Linked DNA regions of Homo sapiens. The protein of the gene in region 2 interacts with the protein of the main gene of each other region in a biochemical or structural test. Each region holds a gene or a part of one and is shown on either strand. Other genes may lie near its edges. The genes, in order: ETS1 and EIF5B.

Region 1 (9,675 bases), on a different chromosome or scaffold from region 2:
TAGTAAGTACTACCCAGCCTGTTCCCTCTAAGTTCTGAAGGCAGCTCCAACACTTGATTACTGGAATATGAAATCTATCCTCTTTTGAAAAAAAGGCAGATCAGAAACATCCTTCCCTCACTGCTCTAGATACCATTTTTTTCTACCTGAACTCCCAAAGCATGTATAGGTTATACTACACTACTTAATAATTATATTGTCTTTCATTTTTATCCTCTTTTCTAGTAAAGATTATTGTGTTAATTTTAAAAATGGAGTTTACATATTGTTTCTTCTGTGTTTGGTATGGTCTCCAGCACAAGGCTGGGCATGGAGTAGAAATAAAACTGATATTTGTCAGGGAAGGGACTGACTTACTTACCCAGGAAACTAGGCCTGGGTAGTCTTTCTTCAAAGTCAGTATCTTCATAACAATGAATAAGTAATCCACAGATACCACTTCAGAAAACAGGCTTAATCCAGTGTTCTCCTAGATAAGCAAATCAGTCTAAGCAGAAAAATCTATCCTAAATTTGTGTAAATGTCTTAGAGTTACTTAGATTCCTATGACATGCAGTTCCAATCACAAGCTCTGGGTTCACATTCCATTGGCTCTAATCAGGGTCCACCATGAGTTAACACGGTCATATGACTGAGCCTCAGAGTCCCCACCTGGTAAATGGGGATGACGAGAGTGGAGTGCCCACCTCAAAACTTCATTGTAGATTAAATGAAGCAGTCCCTGCAAAGCACCTAGCAAGGATGTTGGAACATACCAAGTGCTCAGTAAACGTTAGGGCTGAGTATTCCTCCTTAGGTGAAATGAAGAAGAATGGATATGATAACTAGAAAATCATCTACATTAAAAGGTGGAGTTCAATAAGCTATACTTTCAGTACAGCAGGGATAAAGGAGATGAGGAAGCAAAAAGTAAGTTATGTCTTCACATCTAATTTTTCCCAGGATTGAAGAAACTTAAAAGATTTGCCTGAAATGCCACTAAATTGCTGCATACCACATTAATTTTGCTCAAATGCTAAATACTTTATCATTTCCATAATGAAGAAAGAAAGGGAGGAAAGGGAAGGAGGAGGGAAGAGGGAGAGAGAGAAGAAGAAGAAAGGAGGGGAGAGAAAAGAAAGAAAGAGGAAGAAAAAAGAGAAAAGAAAGAAAGAAAGAAAGAAAGAAAGAAAGAAAGAAAGAAAGAAAGAAAGGAAGGAAGGAAGGAAAGAAAGGAAAGAAAGAAGAAAGAAAGAAAAGAAAGAAAGAAAGAAAGAAAGAAAGAAAGAAAGAAAGAAAGAGAAAGAAAGAAAGGAAAGAAAGAAAGGAAGGAAGGAAGGAAAGAAAGAAGAAAGAAAGAAAAGAAAGAAAGAAAGAAAGAAAGAAAGAAAGAGAAAGAAAGAAAGAAAGAAGGAAGGAAAGAAAGAAAGAAAGAAAGAAAGAAAGAAAGAAAGAAAGAAAGAAAGAAAAAGAAAGGAGGGAGGGAGGAAAGAAAGAAGGAAAAGAAAAGAAAGATAGAAAGGGAGGGAAGGGAGGGAAGAAGGAAGGAAGGAAGCAAGGAAGGAAGGAAGCAAGGAAGGAAGGAAGGGTCCCAGCTCGTGGGACGTAATCATTCCCTTCTGCTGTTTGATGTGAACAGTTGGGAATTTTGAACTGGTAATTAGAAAATGATAGTCACTATGGAAAACAGATCTATTCACCAATAATTAAAATCACAAGGTACATCAGAACCTCAGTTATCAGTAAGAAATTCACCAGTGCAATCAAAGAGAGAAATCTGTTGATTATTTGTTTGCAGTGTTTTGCCTTCTGCCTCACCCTCCCCTAGGTGAGAGGACCTGCACCCACACACCCAGTTTGTTGAAGTATTACTTCAGACAGTCCTTGACCTCACTGGCACTCTGATTTTTCATAGCCCTATGCTGTTTACTTCTATTCTCTCATATTTGTAAACCAGGCGGGGCGCAAATGATTGCTCACCTTTTAGAGATGAAGGGAAGAAGGCACAGACACGTTCAATCCCTGTTCTCTGTTACAAAGCTAATCACTGACATAATCCAAGTGCACAGCCACTTTCCCTTCTCCGACCCAGCGCTGGTTCAAGTTCTGACCCCACTTGCCTTTGAACTCCATTATCGTCCGGGACCGGCCACTGGCCCAAGTCGGTGCTCTGGCCACAGACTGCCAGATGCCAAAGGATCCCACCCCTCTACCAGCTTCCCCCAGGCTCTGCCTCAGGACATCCTTTCACAGCCAGCAACTAGCACCTCCGTGTAAGGAGCCTGCCGGGCAAAGATGCCCCCTCCATAATTAGGCTCTCGGCTTGGCTTCCCACATCCTCAGCAGCGGAACCAGGACGGAAGAGGCTGCATGGATGCCTGAACTGTTTGTTATTTCACTATTGAGTTGGCAAGGATGGAAGTAGTTGATTTACAATTAGAAGCAGCATGCTTCTTCAAATATTAATATTAATAACTGCACTACTGAACACATGAAAAGACCTTTTCATCTTCAAAGCACTTTGCAGACATTAACCCATTAGCTCTCCCTTCCCTCCATTCAGGAACAACAGGTGAGCAAGACTCTCAACAGCAGCAGTGGCCACCCTGCAGCCCTTGTGCACAGCCCACGGCCCCTGAAGAAAAAGCGTTTTCTCTTTGGATAAAAATAGGCCACCAAACCCAAAACCACAACTGATGAAAGAGTTATAGTATCAGTAATTTTACAAATCAAATGGAGCTGATGGAGTTATCATTTTAGAATTGGTATTTCCTGCTGTTTAACAAATACTTTTTTCTCAGTTGCATGGCAGTGGTCTAAAGTAAGAAGGAAAATGGACTTGAGATTAAAAACAAAAACTTACCCAAAAGGTGATAAAGAAATCCTGCAATAGAATGCATTGATTTCAGTGACCCAGCACCCTTTTAAGTTTGCCTGAAGAAAATACTACTTTAAAAGTTGGTAACAGAGACCTTTAACGGTGGGTGAGGAGTCACATACAAAGTGTCACGGCCAGATAAAATCACCGGATGCAGAGGAATTGCCATCGACATCTCCTGCCACTGAGTCCAGCTCTACCGTGGGGACAAGAAATACCTCCCTAACTCTGAGACAACCGCGGCCCACACCCACACCATGTCTCAACAACAGACTTAGGAACTTGTAGATCTTTGGACAACTGCAGGTCAGTCCCAAGACAGAGAAAAACACCAAACAGGCTAGTTTGGCTAGCAAGATTCAAACCTGTAGCAATTTCCTCTCTATTAAAAGCAATTCATTAAACTACTAGCAGGAGAAAAAAGTAAAACAATAGATTTACTAGGAGTGAAAGAGAATAAAAAGAAATTTATATATTTAACTACAGCTTTATTTCTTTGGAAGTGCTCCAATTTGCAAAAAAAAAAAAAAAAAATCAGGGTTTCTGACAAGTAATCTACGGGTATCTAAAACGTGCATGGTTTTACTTTTGTGAAGCAGGGAACATTTTTAAAAACATAGTCTTGCTTTCAGACTATTCTGACGAGGTTAGGAAGTATTTTTGAAAATTGTTAAACAATTAAATGGGAATATAGAAAGACGTGAAAAGAGAAAGAGAAAACTCACTTGTATCCTGAATCTCCCTACCGACTTACTCTTTAATTCCACAGAAATTTTTTTAAAGCAGGAAAAGGAAAATGGACTGAAAAGTTTTAGGCAGAAACTGACACACACCTCACTTACTACTTTGCCGGAGAGCAGATCCTGAGTGAGCTTCCCTCAAAGTCTGTGGTCTCTTTCCAACTACCTGCGGGAATCCTCTGCTCCGTAGCTTAAGAGGATGCAAAGACCATAATGTTTCTAATAGAGCTGCCTCCTTAAATTGGGGGGTGTGGTCAAGCCAGGGAAAGCTGGAAAAAAGGCAGTCTTCCTCTTGCCCCTGGCACCAGGACAGCAGCCACTGGCACAGGCACAGCAGTCTAGGTGGAAAGCACTGTTGATTGACAGTGGTGGCACCAAATCACACATTATTTCGTATTCTTCAAATTGTGCTTCAGCTGAATATAACTCAGCCTTGGAGAGTAACAGGGAGGGAGATGAGCAAAAGGGAACTAGTTCAGTGGGATAACACTGTATCTCACCTCATCATTTGCTGATGCATTTACTCTCTGCTGAATATGTAAATATTCATGCTTCATGTTCCTTGACTTTCTCAATGGAGCCCCCATTAACCTAGGCAAGGTCTCAGGTGAGGGAAAGGGATTGCTTTAGAAACACAGGACGTCCACCACCCAGTCACCTGCTCAGGCTTCCCGTTTCTCTCTAATAACTTGATATGAAATGTGATATTTTCTAAAGAAAAGAAAATAATTTTGTGGAAGAGAGCTGACTGGATATGGACTTGGGATTTCTGAAAAGTAAAGCTAAAAATCCCCTTTTCATATAAGTCTGGTTTTAGGCAATCTCTAAAATAAGGATACTTTTAGCAGCCCTGACTCATGGTCCGTGGTGCAGGAATAAAAGGGCAGAAGTGTTCATACATTTCTCATTTAGGGAAAATGTAAACAATATGAAAATCTTACATCTGTCCTAAGTGAAAATACACAGCATCTTTTATTCACATATTCAGGACTATGGTAAGAATGTTACAGCATAATCTCATTTCTATGAATGGAGTTATTACAATTTTTTTTGAGAAGTCAGTATTTGGCTGCTTAATCTAAGACTTTTATCCTAAAAGATTCCATCTTCTTTGAGTAGGAGGTGGGAGTTAAGATTTGTCATAGTTGGCTTCTTTCTCTTTTTAATAAAGATACAAACTTAGAAAATCCTTGAAAATCTAATAACTGTCATTTGGAGCCATATCATCATCAGCCTTCATTGTATAAAGCTGGCAATGCAGTTAAGATGACATTGTAAGTAAAGCAAGATTTTACTGCTCATCTTCTGCCTTTGCACATTAACTTGGAAGTAAGGAAGAGGTAATGCTATTGGTTCACTTTAGTTTAATAAATTGCCTGTGCCAGGCACTGTTCTAGGCACTAGAAAGATAGCAAGTTTGCATTGTAGTGAGGAGACAGACACATAAATCAACGATCTCCCCCCAAAAATGTAATACATGCTACAAAAGAAGTCTATGAAGAGAGCTAGGGAAGCTTCAGCCTGCCCCTGTAACCCAGTCAATTTCAGCACACTGCCCCATTTAAAGAGCCCACGGTCAATTATACCAATCATAACTAATTACAACTGTATTCACTATGTTTGCAGGATAATTGAAAAAAACAAAGTTGAGAAGACTTGGATTCTTGCTCTATAAGGGTGTACAGTGTGGCTGTCAAGGGGTTCTGAAGTCTGGAGTTGTCTATGCTGAGTTTATATAGAAAGCAACTCTTCAGGACCTTAGCTCCCTCCTCTGACACGGCCTTTTACGGTGTGGAAGAACATAAACTAGAAATCTTAATAGTGCAAAATAAGCCACCACTGTCATAAATTGCCTAGAGAATGCCCAGGAAAACAGTAAGTTTTGTTTTAAACAGTATTTTCAAAAATATAACATTAGATGGGTATCCACATATAAGAGCATGACATTGGACTCCTACCTTACACCATACTCAAAAATTAACAAAAATCTATCAAAGATCTGAACATAAGAATGAAAATTATAAAATTCTTAGAAAAAATCAAAGAAGAAAACTTCATGACATTGGATTTAGCAATGATTTCCTGGGATATGACAGCTTATCCCAGGAAAAAAAACTTGGGCAACAAAAGAAAAAATAGATAAGTTGGACTTTATCAAAGTTTTAAAATGTTGTACATCAAGGGGCACTATTAAGACAGTGAAAGGGAAGTCCACAGAATGAGAAAAAAAATTGCAAATCACATATCTAATAAGGACTTAATACTCAAAATATATAAAGAACTCCTACAACTCAACAGCAACAACAACAAATAACCTGATCTAAAAGTGGACAAAAGACATGAGTAGACATTTCTCCAAAGATGCAGAAATGGCCAATAAACACACGAAAAGAAGGGCAACATCATTAATCATCAGAGAAATGCACATTCGAACCACAGTGAGGTACCTCTTCACATCTATTGGGGTTCCTATTATCAAAGAAACAGAAAATAATGGCAAGAATAAGGAGAAATAGGAATAAGGGTGTGTTGCTGCTGAGAATGTCAAATGGTGCAGCCACTGTAGAAAACAGTGTGGTAGTTCCTCAAAACAATTAAATATAAAATTACCATTTGATCTAGCAATTCAACCTCTACATATATAGCCACAAGCATTGAAAGAAGAACTCAAAAAGATGTCTGCACAATATTGTTCATAACAGCGTTATTCACAATAGCCAAAAGGTAGAAACACCCCAACTATTTATCCACAGATAAATGGATAAGCAAAATGTGGTATGTACAGAAAATGGAACATTATTCAGCCTTGAAAAAGAATGAAATTCCAATACATGCTACAGTATGATGAACCTTGAGGACATTATGCTAAATGAAATAAACCAAATACAGAAAAGACAAATATTGTGTAATTCTACCTGTATGAAGTACCTAGAATAGTAAAATTTATAGAGACAGAAAAAGGGATAGAAGTTAACACAGGTTGGAGAAAGGAGAATGGGGAATTCGTGTTTAATGGGGACAGAGCTTCGGTTGGGGATGATAAAAAAGGAATGGAGATGGATGTGGGTGATGGTTGCACAACATGTGACTGTACTTAATGCCCCTGAATTGTACACTTAAAAATTGTTCAGATGGTAAATTTTACGTTACATGTATTCTACCACAATAAAAGAATATGTTGTCCCGAGGGAAAAAAAAAATATATATATAGCATTAGAAGTCAGTAGGCTTCCGCAGAAGGAATGCTTTCTGATCCACATGGATAATATAGGACAAAAGAAAATGATGCTCTAGAAGAAGAAGGTATGAAATCCCTGGAGGATCCCTCCACTGCACGGTGGTGGCTCCCCAGCCCCTCCCTTATGCCGGCTCTTGAAGAGGGTGTAGTAATACCAGCCCAACTTCACAGGGTTGCTGAAATCACCATGCGATTAGATGACTGTGTAAACAGTAGAAGCAATGCTTTTCTTTCCCATGTCCATAGATAGCTCTATGAGGAAAGACCTCAATTGATAGGGCAATATGACCATTATGATTCTCAAGGAAAAAATTAAAACTCAGTGATCCAGGGACATGGGTACCTTTTGATCCCATGTAAAAGGGATATGCAAAATGAGTTGTTTGCTTCTTTGAAGGAGTATCTCTGTAGCCTCACCTAAACAATCGTAGTCTCAATATAGTTTGGATACAAGTGAGACAGAGCATGAAGGAATTTCTAGAATAGCTTTTCTTACTGTAAGGAAACCTTTTTCCTTTTCTCAGTATAACAAGTTACCTTGTAAGTTAGTATGTCTTAAGAGGAAAAATGGAAGTAAATTCCCAGAATCTTAGCTCTGCAAAGGTCTTCAACGCTCCCACCAGCAACCTTCCCTCACTGCCACCCCAACTCCCTAAAGTGCAGAAGTCCCCTTCAAAGCAACTTATAATGATTCTGTAAAACCACCCGCTGCAGGAAAAGTGTGAAGTTTGAAATTAAAAATGGCATTAAATTTAAGGAAAAGCAAAGCAAAACATTACACACGTATTGCATTTTCCATATTAACTTTCCTTCCATCTCAGAAAAAAGCCTCGTGATAATTCAGAAGACTTCATATGTGCAGAGAACCAGTATCTAAACAAACTACCAAAACCAAGTAGAGTGAAACCCAGATACTATTACAAGCGTGGTTATCACCAAATATTGAAAAGAAAAAGAAAATATGCTGAAAATAAAGCAAAGAGCAGAGAACCATTGTGCATTGCCACTCCAGCTCTGGAACTTCTTAGCCTGTACTTTGCAATGACTCTCTCTCCTTCCCATGATCAAAAGCAAAGCCTTTGTCTTGAGCCACAGCTGAGACTGCAATGGCACACATACGTGTGCACACATCTGGCACACAGGTGCTCATCCTTCTGTGTGTGCCAGAGAGCCTATGGAGACCCGGATTTCTTGGCGTAGTCTTCCCACAACCCCTGATGTGCTGCTCCATTAGTCCTTGCACCAACTTTCTGGTTTTTTCTTCCTCTCTAGAATGTAGAATGAGCTGGGCACAGGCCCCCAGGTAGACTCCCTGCAAAGTAGCTTAGCTAATGTCGGTCAAAAATTCTTCTCCATCCTGGTTCCACTGGGCCTGCTAAACATCCTGTGGACTCCACAAACTCAGAGAGTTTCAGCAGAACGGACCCTTCTGGGATGTATGATAGCCCACTGAAAACCCCATATCTTGCCACCCCCTCCTTCCACCCCCATTCCTTTCTATGTACTTTTTGTCACTCTGTCTCCCTGGTCCCTTCTCCCTCAAAATACTTCTCACTTTTTCTCTCTGTCAGTCTAACTCCTACAAAGTTATTTTTCAATCTCAATTTAATTACAGGATGAATATGCGGTTGTAGCATATTCAAGTCATACAGAAGGGTATGAATTCAAAAATGAGAATCACCACTTCGGGTCCCCTTCCACCCAGTCTCACACCAAAAAGCTAACTACTATTTAGGGTTTGATATCCAGCCCTCCAGTCTTTCCTCTATTCTTATACCCATACTGGGCCTTTTTAATGGGATTGTGTTCGATGTATTGTTCTGGGACCTTCTACCATGCATCCGGCAGTATGTTCAGCAGCTATGTCTTTCCAGATTGGCCCCTTCGGAGCTGCCTCAATCATCTCAGCCAGCCCCCGTAATCCCCTGTGACATCCCTTAAGCTCCAGCTCCAGTCCTTTCTTTCTCTCCCTGTGCTTTTCCACGCAGCTATTGTCTTGCTCCTGCGTTGTCACAATGAGCTATTTAAGTTCCCGTATCTCCTGTCCACGTCTTTCCTGCCTTATCTTCCCCACTAGAATGTGATTCTGGGGGTGCAGGGTCTGTGCCCTTGACATTTCCTTATCACCAGTAGTCATATAAACTGCCTCCCCAGCACACTCCCTTGAACATACTATGGACTGGATAAATATAAAAAGTTAGAGCTTGACAGCTCAAAATACATTGTGTACAGCATAATGCCATTTTTACAATCTAAAACCATAAATCGACTAAGTATTGAGAGGTTATTTCTGGTGGTATGGAAGATTTTTTGTTGTATTTTTGTTATGTTTGTGTTTTCTGATTTTTATACAATGTTGTATTGCACCTGTAACAAGAATAAAAAACCAAATTTTACAGTTAAGTACATGACTTTATCGGTCCAATGAAGACGACAGGCTATCATAGTGTGATAGCACAGCCTCTGAGATCAAACTTCCCAATTTAAATCCCAGCCTTTGTTCTTTCTCAGTTACCATGGACATTTTAAGATTTCCGATTTTTGGTTTCCTCATATATAAAATGAAGATAATGGCACTGTACACCTCAGGGATTACTGTGAGGATTAAAGAGGTAGTGAGACCTAAGTATTTAATTTAGTGATTAGAACAGACTTTATACTCAATAACTATTGACTGCTATTATCAATGGCATGGCCGGGGTGGACCCAAGGCTCCCATTTCCCAATTCAGAGTCATTCTCACCACAATCCATAAATCTTCACAGGAGAAAACCCCAGGGGCTGATTGTCCCTTCTACTTGGAATGCTGGTTTGCTAATCCGGAGAGAAAAGACTGCTGC
Region 2 (10,406 bases):
GATATAACCTACATACACAGAAGCCTTTTGTGTTCCTTAGGAATTTAAGAGTGTAAAGGAGTCTAGGACCAGAATTTGAGAATTGCTATTCTAACCTAACCACTGACACTCAGTTCCTTGGTAAAACAACACTCTGCCCACCTTATAGATCAACTGCAATACTGGAATAAACTTAGAAGCATAAATAAAGCACAACAAATGAGCAAGTAACATTAAAAGTAGCTGAATGAGTTCCCCACAGGGACAGCATGGAAGGCTAGAGAGGTTACTATCAACAAAAATCTATAATCTGTTTTCTTATTAATTTATAGCAAACTAGGACTTCTTCCCCTACCACTTCCTAAAGCGTCAGGATAGGAACAGGCTAGACCAAAAGAATTCTGATTATGCATCTTTTTTTGATGTAATTTATGCAGACAAGAGTTTCATTCAAATATATGCAAGTAAGAAATGAATTCCTTTATTAAACCTAGGCTATGTGTATTATATTTGTTTGATATGTGGATATTGAATCCTAGCCTTTGTCTCAACAAGTTTCCCGAGTCAACTGAAAAAGGTCAGGAAAACTTGCTGAACAAACACCACATCAAAATCTCATTCTTAGAATTACACAAACTGGGGCTGAGCGTGGTGAATCACACCTGTAATTCCAGGCCTTTGGGAGGCCAGGGTGGGAGGATCACTTGAGTTCAGGAGTTTGAAACCAGGCAGCCAACATGGTGAAACCCTGTCCCTACTAAAAACACAAAAATTAGCCAGGTGTTGGGCGCCTGTCATCCCAGCTACTTGAGAGGCTGAGGCAGGAGAATCGCTTGAGCCCAGGAGGCGGAGGTTGCAGTGAGTGGAGATCGCGCCACTGTACTCCACCCGGGGTGACAGAGCAAGACTCCATCTCAAAAAAAAAAAAGAAGATTTTTCACAAACTGGAACAGAATTCTAGAACTTGGTCTTTAAGCAAAATTCTAGAATTCTAAAAATACACAGACAAGAATAAATATCTTGATCACTGACACATGCTGTACAAATAAAATTAGGTAAGTTAAAATCTAATTTTAAATGAATACTGAGTGGCTAAGAAGTTAAAATAAGGATTAATTAAATATAAGAATTAAGGACAGTGAGTATTGTATGTTCTGTCCAAGAACTGAAAAGTGGCTCCATGCCTTCTCTTGATAACTAAATAAGCAGTTGTCATTTCTCACACAGTTCACACCTTGCCAGAAACATGCCTGACATAGCCAAGGAGGGGAGGTGGAATGACAGTAAAATCTTTAAAGTGTGGACCTTCACCCAGGAGAATAAAACCGGATCTCTATCTCATTTTACACAAACAAGAATACTAATCCTAAAATTGGACTTTCTCCCTCTAGATTTTCTTTCCAGTCTGTGTTTTTGTCCCATTTACAAATATTCAAAATATCCCTGAAGAAAGGAAAGAAATATTAAAATAAAGGTAAAAAGCTGACTCACAAAGCAGTGGAACTTCCCATTCCCCATCTCCCAATATCTCATGTGGAAGACCAAAATAAAAACCCAAGCAGTTCCAGTCAAAGGGAACTCTGCTAAAGCTCAGGATTTCTTAAACACAATCTGAAAGCCATTCATAAAAAGGAGTCCATGAGGCATTTATACACACACACACTCACAAAATGTATCAATTTCATATATTGGTATATGAGAAAATAAATGTTTTAAAATTATATTGCCACCACTTTCCCTTCAACATGAGCCAAAAACAAACAAACCAAAACAACAACAACAACAACAACAAAACACAGATTAGGTTGAGAGGGGGAAAAAACAGCATTTCTTCTACACAACCAAACCAATCATTTAACAACAGGGTCTAGTGTGCAATTTAAACTTTACAGCATCCCTGAAAATCTTTATAAATCAATGAGACACTCACTTTTCCCTAAAAAGACACAGACAAGAATAAACATCTTGTCTCCCAATGGCTTTTTTCTATTGTGAAAGAGCCTGGAAAGTAAAAAGTGTAAGTAGGGAAACATATAAGCCGGATCGCGCCTGTAGTCCTAGCTACTAGGGAGGCTGAGGTGGGAGGATCACTGGCCAGGAGTTCAAGACCTGACTGGGCAACATAGTGAGACTGCCCCTCCATCTCCAAAAAACAAAACAAAACAAAAACACATATATATGTAATTTTAATCTAAAGAACACATTTGTGTAATCCTAAACCAAACGAACGAATTGAAAAAAAAACTGTAATAAGACAATCAGGGAAATCAGCAAACTGACTGAATATTTGCTAATGTTTAAGAATCACTATTAATATTTCTTACAGATATACTTGGTGGATTTACAGATGAAAAGCTAATGAGATTTGCTTTAAAATATCTAGTAGGTGGGGGCCAGGGGCGATGGATCACGCCTGTAATCCCAGCACTTTGGGAGGCCGAGGCGGGCGGATCACCTGAGGTCGGGAGTTCGAGACCAGCCTGACCAACATGGAGTAACCCCGTCTCTACTAAAAATACACAACTAGCCGGATGTGGTGGTGCATGCCTGTAATCCTAGCTACTCGGAGGCTGAGGCAGGAGAATCGCTTGAACCAGGGAGGTGGAGGTTGCAGTGAGCCGAGATCGCGCCATTGCCCTAAGTTTCTTGTTGTCTGGGCAACAAGAGGGAAACTCCGTCTCAAAAAAAAAAAAAAAATGTATATATATATTTGTGTATATATTTGTATATATATATATTTATATATATGTGTGTATATATATTTGTATATATATATATATACACACACTTCTAGTAGGTGGGATGAAACCAAGCAGGTCATGTGCTAACAATGGTTGAAGGCAGGTAATTAATACATAAAGGCTCATTATACTCAGTTCTCTATTTTCTAGAGACAGCTGAACATTAGCAAGGAAAAAAGTACCCTATACATCAAAAATTCCTGTCAAAAGTACAGAAATTTGTGTTCCCCTACATCACCCATAATCCTTATTTTCTCATTCATCTGGTTTAACAATAATTCAATTCTCCAAACCAATTAACTTCCTCCAATAGACCTAAAACTGAAATACAAGACTATCTTTGTTGTCTTTTAATTCTACTCATAAGCTAGTCAAACGCTAGGTGAGAAAACGATCCAGGCTTCCAATTTATAATTAGTAAACTTATTTTAACTTCAAGACAACATATCTGTTTTGAGTCAGACTGATGAACTAGCACTAGTTTTTTTAATTTACCTTACTCTCCGCCTCGTATTTAAGTTTGGTGGGTAGTGTACGAACGTGTAATGTAACAGATGTTGTTCACTCCCAGGAAGTCAACTCTTTCCATCATGAGTAACAGAACTCAATCGAATGTGACACACAGAAATGTCTCAAAAATCTCTAGGTAAGTAACTCGCATATACCCTTATCCTCCCTCCCCAAAGCATTGCAGGTGGTTAGAAAGGAGCGACCTCGGTTGGTTGGTTTCTTCTTCTTCCCTTCCTTTCTTAGGGGAAGGCTAGAGAGCAAAGAAACGACAAAAAAAAACAGGCCGGAAGAAGGAAAGCGAAAAGCATGAGGGCTGGACAATCAGCCCTTAAATAAACGAAAACTGTATCCAAATCAGATTAAGTTGAGAGACAGCGAACTGCTAAACACCTCCCCATAACTCTAACGTACCTGAAACCGCGAGTAGAGAAACCCGGCCGTACATCACATTCAAGCTCCCTTCCCTCCCAAAGTACTCACAGGTATAAGAGGCATAAAAAGAACTTCCCCACCCTCGCCAAGAGTAGCGCGGAAAAAAACTCACACTGGCCTGGGCCACGCTGGCGAAGCCGCCTGACCCTCCCCGCGCGACCAGGAACCCTCAAATGACTACCCCGCTCCTCAGGCCGGGGAAGGGGTGCCGGGGGAGCGAGGCTCGACTGGGAGGACCCGCCCGCCGTCGAGGCCCTACGTGCCCACCCGGCCCGGGGGCTTGGGCCCGCTCCGCACACTCTGGGCCCAGGCCTGGTACCCCGCGAAGCTCATCGCGAGCCCAGACCCCGGTCCGACGCCGCGCCCGGCGAGACCCGCACACTCCACTGAGCCACGGCGGCCGCCGCCGTACGGACCCAACCCCTATCTACCTGTCTTCGCTCTTGTTTTTCTGTTTCTTCCCCATTGCTTGTCAATGGCGCTCGTGGCCCCAGCCCCTCTATTCGGTCTCTCACAGACCCACTGTCTCCCGGCTGACTTTGGTCTCCGCTCAGCTCTTTTCCCCTCGTGCTGCCGCCGCTCGCACCCGGCTCTCCACAGACCCGCGCACTGGAACAGGACACATATGGTGTGAGTTCTCAGTGCGCAAGCGCATCGCCCAGCCGCCTCGGCGTGAGGACGCAGGGCGCGGCTCATCGAGAGCTGCGCTTCGGGTAGAGCGTCTCCGGTTGACCGGCCGACCAGGCAGCAGCCCGAGCGCCCCCTGCCCTCAAGCGTCCGCCACGAGCCGACACCCGCGGGTTTTCCACGTTCTAGAACCCGGAGGTGGACAATGAAGCTGTCAATTTCGCCACCTCACCCCTCTCCCAACGGGGAACGCACGCTTCGGTTCAGGAGTGGGCTTTGGGCTTCCCTTTATATCTTTGTATTCTCAGCCGCACGAAGTTCAGTAAAGAACCACAACGAACCAATAGAGTCCTCTGGGGGTTTGCGAGAGAGATAAATTCAGGACAAAATAGGGACCTCTCAGTAACATCCATGCATTATGCATTATGTACAGTCACTGAATAAAACAGAACAGGACACAGCCGATCAATTCCCTAACATAGGTCTTCAGCTTCACCCTCAAAGCGAGGGCGAGTTCTAAAAATTCCTGTGTTTCGAAGAGTCAAGAGGGGACCTACAGGGGTGGTGGAAAATGTTCTATATCTGGATCTGGCCGGTGATATTTTGGGTTTTAACTATGCAAAAGTTAATTGTGCTGTATATGTTTATGCCTCGACTTTAGGAAAAATGTTAACAAAAGAAAACAAAAAAAAGAAAAATGTTCATTCAACACTAACAGAATGGAAACGCAGTTCAAGCGTCACGGCTGAGCGAGAGCACAGCTGTCTCATTTCCAGTCTGGCGCACTGGACCGTGAATACTGAAGCACGCTCCTGAGAAAGTCCGGCCACGACAGCCTGCGCACTAAGAAACTGCAACTCCCACAATGCTTTGCGGCCTTCCAGTTCGGCCGTGTACCCGGAGGAAAGCAAGGGTCGGACACCTTGGGTTCCGGGCTGCTGGGCGGGAGGCGCACGCGCAGAACTGTTCGCCACCCGACCGCCCGCCCCTTCCTCTGGCGTCCAAGGTGATATCGCGCGAGGTTCGCAGCCAATAAGGAGGCGGATGTGACGGCCCGTTTGCAGCCGCCGGCAGCTACTGCAAGGCAAAAGCCGGAGTGGACGTGTCTTTTGAAACTGCTGCTCTTTCACTTCTCAGGCGTCACCGAGAGCTCAGGTGAGGCAGAGGGTAGTGAGAAGAATCCGACCACCACGTCCGGGTGCTGGTGAACATTCTGCTGCTCCACATCCGGAGCGGAGGAGGGGCGCGGCCCCAGCACCGGTGTCGGTGTCCTGGCAGAGGCTCTTGCGCAAGCGCACCAGGAGGCGTCGAAGTTGGGGCCACCGGGACTGTGCTTTCCTCTGTTTCCCCGGGCGCAGGGAGTGGCCGGCTTGCCATTGGGGAGGTACCTGGGGTTCAGTTAAGGACCAGGCCCCTTGATTGTTTTGGCGGATACCTGTAAGGGTGTCCAGGAAATGACTAGGGAATTTGAGGACGCGCTGTGTCCCGTCCCACCCTTCCAGCGGAGCTGTAAAAAGGAAGAATCAGAGGCTGTGGTTTGAAAAATGAAAAGCTAACGAGGGGTTGCATCGTCTCTTTACCCCATTCTCAATGCTCTGACCACCAACACCTACACCCAGAATAGCTCTTCTTAATCTCGTCTTTTTCCAGTTATCCCATAATTAAATTCTGGGCTCATTCTATAAAGTTCCAGGGTAGGCATTCTCTGTGCTTATCCCTGGAGCACAGCTTCCAACGTTCAATTCAGTATCTTATTATCTTCTCCTTCCAGCCCCCTCACTGAGGGTCACAGTCCTACTGACATTTTTCTTGGGCGATAGGGAGCGTGGAAATCTTTGCTGTGTTTGAAATACAGCACCTTTCCAATTTTATAGCACTCACGAGGAGCTTACAATTTGGTTTTTTAGACTCAAATACTTTTGAAACTTAACAGTGTAGTAATTTGAACAGAAGTCAGGCACGTGTTCATTCAACGTTAAATACATGTTTATTGAGTACCTGCTGTGTTCTATGGAGATACAAAGATGAAATCAAGTATGCTTTTCAAATCCTTTTCCTGTAAAGAAAAAGGAATCAGAATTGAAGTTTGCAAGAATATTTCTCTTCAGCTCAACGTTTATAGAGGGCCTGTGTGGGTCAGAATCTGTGTCAGAAGCTGAGTGAATGAATTCACAGTTTGTTGTGAAGTTTGGGGTGCTTCAGTATTATTTGCAAATGTATCATAGTTCATTGATATGCAACAGCCTCCTGCTTTGATAGGCAAATTATAAATCATTTCTGCAGTAATAACCCTGAGATACACATAAACTTGCCCTCTAATTGTTGGTATAAAATTTCTCGTACAAAATACTCCATTTCTTTTAAAAGAAGTAAAATTTTGGCCGGGCGCGGCTGGCTCACGCCTGTAATCTCAGCACTTTGGGAGGCCGAGGCGGGCGGATCACGAGGTCAGGAGATCGTAGCCATCCTGGCTAACACGGTGAAACCCCGTCTGTACTAAAAATACAAAAAGAAATTAGCCGGGCGTGGTGGCGGGCGCCTGTAGTCCCGGCTACTCGGGAGGCTGAGGCAGGAGAATGGCGTGAACCCAGGAGGCGGAGCTAGCAGTGAGCGGAGATGCGCCACTGCACTCCAGCCTGGGCGACAGAGCGAGACTCCGTCTCAAAAAAAAAAGTAAAATTTTGTACTAATTGCTAGTACAAAATACTCCATTTCTTTTAAAATATATAGTCATGTGCCACATAAGGACATTTCAGTTTTATGAGATTGTAATACTGTATTTATCGTACCTTTTCTATGTTTAGATACACAAATGCCATTATGTTACAGTTGTCTGCAGTATTCAGTACAGTAACATGCTGTACAGATTTGTAGCCTAGGAGTAATAGGCTGTATGGCATAGCCTAGGTGTGTAGCAGGCTGTACCATCTGGGTTTGTGTAAATAGTCTATAATGTTTGAAACAATATCAAAATCACCTAATGATGCATTTCTCAGAATGTATTCTCATTGTTTTGTGGGTTTTTGGTTTTTGGTTTTTGAGACAGGGTCTGGCTCTGTTGCCCAGGGTGGGGTGCAAGTGGTGCGTTCTCAGCCCACTGCAACCTCTGCCTCCTGGGCTCAAGGTATCCTCCTCCCACTTCAGCCTCCCTAGTAGCGGGGACTACAGGCACACACCACCGGGCCTGGCCAATTTTTCTATTTTTAGTAGAGACAGGGTTCCATCATGTTTCCCAGGCTGGTCTCAAACATCTGAACTCAAGTGATCTGCCCACCTTGGCCTCCCAAAGTGCTGGGATTACAGGCGTGAGCCATAGCACCCAGCCTAGAATATATTCCCATTGTTAAGTGATGCATGACTAATTGAGATAGGTCTTCCTTTCTAATCTGAATTAGTTCTATTTTGAAACTCTGATTTTACACAGAGGAGTGATGTTGGAAAAAAACCCAAAATTTAGAAAAGTATTTGGAGTGTTTTACATCAAAGTTAACACTGTCAGTAAATGGAAACCAGTATTAATTTTTGTGACCTCATAGACTTTTTTGTTAGGTAATGGGAGAACAGGAATGGACATTAATGCTCAGGGAACACCAGGCACTCTTCTTTACATAAATGGTAATGAGACGTCTTAGGAGTTAAATGAAACTCATTTGGGCAGCAGCCATGAAAAAAATCTGTGTTTTGCTCAACTGTACTCTGTGTTTAAGTAAAGTTTAATATATATATTTATGTGTAAAACCTCAGTAGGTATACCTTCCTATTGTTCGCAGTTGTTTCTGATTTCTCTTTCCCATTGGTAAAGAACACTGATTGTCAGTATATATCACTAGGTATAACTTCACAACTCATTTCTCTGTGGTTTGGTGATGGTCTTAAAGACTTGTCTTGGCTTTAGTATAGTAAAACATATGCTAAATCAGAAGCACCCTAAATTTGCTGTAAGTAGTTTTTGAGTGGTGTGACTAGAACCTACTGAGAATTAAATTTAAAAACACATAAAAATTGTTAAGCCCAGCATCAAGTGCTTGGATGTCGTTAGAATACTCCATAGAGTACACATTATACACTTGCCAGAATTTTTGAAAATGGTAGAGAAAACCTTGCTTATTGTTTGCATTTTTTAAAATGTATTTTGTAAATCTTCTCCCCAGCACCCAGGCTGAACTCTGTACCATTTGGAAGAATGGAAGCTGATGCATCTGTTGACATGTTTTCCAAAGTCCTGGAGCATCAGCTGCTTCAGACTACCAAACTGGTGGAAGAACATTTGGATTCTGAAATTCAAAAACTGGATCAGATGGATGAGGATGAATTGGAACGCCTTAAAGAAAAGAGACTCCAGGCACTAAGGAAAGCTCAACAGCAGAAACAAGTAACCTCTCTGCCCTGCTTTCTGAAATTGCTATAACAGTATGCGCCTAACAACTTATATATACATGTGCTGTAGTAGTTACATTTCGTTCTTTGTGTTTAGGGTTTTTAAAATTCAGAATACCTATTACTGTTAAAAATTTGCCCAGAAAAAAATATGTTTTAAAGACATTCAAAATTAGCCCAATCTCTATATTAATCCACAGTCGAGTAAAAGAAAGATCTGCCCAAGATCGTTTTTCTGAGCTTGGATTTGTTTGGTTGAATGGAGGGCTAGGGAGTCATTGGTTTCCATTTCAGGTAATATTAAAGCCGATTTAGCTATTTTCAAAGCAAACGAGATAAGACAGATGAGATAAGAGCAATTAAGTCAATTTATGTTGAAAAATGTATTTCAGGCATTTCCAATGAAATAATTATGTGGCATATTCAAAAGAATGCATGCTTTGTAACAAAGGTGGCCACAGCTCTATCGTTGTTGCCTCTTAGAATGTTTGTGTAGAATAAACGCAGAGTTGTAAACTCTGACTGAAACCAGTGGATTAAATTCTGTAAATTGAAATTTTTTTTTCTGCTTTTTGAGATGGAGTCTCGCTGTGACACCCTGGCTGGAGTACAGTGGTGTCATCTCAACTCACTGCAACCTCCGCTTCCCGGCTTCAAGCAATTATTCTGCCTCAGCCACCCGAGTAGCTGGGACTACAGGCGCACACCACCATGCCTGGCTAAGTTTTGTATTTTTAGTAGAGATGGGGTTTCGCCATGTTGGCTAGGCTGCCCTTGAACTTCTGACCTCAAGTGATCCGCCCACCTTAGCCTGCCAAAGTGATGGGATTACAAGCGTGAGCTACCGCACCTGGCCAAATTGAATTTTGATTAAAACATTTTTTCCACTGGGTTACATGGAAATACTTTATCACCAACTCTGGTTCCTTTTCAGTTGACTGTGACTTAAACATGAGGCTTAACTTTTCTGAAGAAATAGGGAGTTTTGACCGGGCATGGTGGTTCACATCTGTAATCCCAACACTTTGGGAGTCCAAGGTGAGCGGACAACCTGAGGTCGGGAGTTCAATACCAGCCTGGCCAACATGGTGAAACCCTGTCTCTACAAAAAATACAAAAATTAGCCAGGTGTGGTGGCGCACACCTGTAGTCCCAGCTACTCAGGAGGCTGAGGCAGGAGAATCTCTTGAACCCGGGAGGTGGAGGTTGCCGTGAGTCGAGATTGTGCTACTGCACTCCAGCCTGGATGATAGAGCAAGACCCAGTTCCCCCACAAAAAAAGAGAAGGAGTTTTGTTTGTATTGCTGTAGCATCACTTTGATATGTTTACACCCTCATGTTTAGAAGAGTTACTACAAAAGGAAATAATCTTTTATAAGTGAGTCCAAATTTTTATATTTTGAGTTTCTAAAATAGAGTACGTTATATGGCTTTTACCTGTACCCTACCGTATTTTAAAAAATAGGCTGCTTTTCTTTTTCTTTTCTTTCTTTTTTTTTTTTTTTTTGAGAGGGAGTCTCACTCTGTTGCCCATCCTGCCTTGACCTCTCAAGTAGCTGGGATTACAGGTGCCTGCCACCATGCCCAGCTGATTTTTGTACTTTAGTAGAGATGGGGTTTCATCATGTTGGTCAGGCTGGTCTCAAATTCCGACCTCAAATGATCCGCCTGCCTCAGCCTCCCAAAGTGCTGGGATTACAGGTGTGAGCCACCCCACACCAGGCCCAATTGGCTTCTTTT

Evidence for each region.
Region 1: the proteins of EIF5B (region 2) and ETS1 form a complex in vitro, tested with the Homo sapiens proteins (one study listed by BioGRID).

The regions. Positions count from the first base shown.
Region 1 is NC_000011.10:128,583,798-128,593,472, forward strand, and holds the start of ETS1 (protein C-ets-1), read right to left. Parts: upstream 3,762-9,675; 5' UTR 3,691-3,761; exon of another isoform or gene 2,880-3,690; coding exon of another isoform or gene 2,843-2,879; exon of another isoform or gene 2,543-2,842; intron 1,132-2,542; exon of another isoform or gene 1-1,131. UniProt on the Homo sapiens protein: Transcription factor. Directly controls the expression of cytokine and chemokine genes in a wide variety of different cellular contexts. May control the differentiation, survival and proliferation of lymphoid cells.
Region 2 is NC_000002.12:99,331,277-99,341,682, reverse strand, and holds the start of EIF5B (eukaryotic translation initiation factor 5B), read right to left. Parts: upstream 4,295-10,406; 5' UTR 4,129-4,294; coding exon 4,094-4,128; intron 1-4,093. Other genes in the region: TXNDC9 (thioredoxin domain-containing protein 9), read left to right, coding at 8,473-8,661. UniProt on the Homo sapiens protein: Plays a role in translation initiation.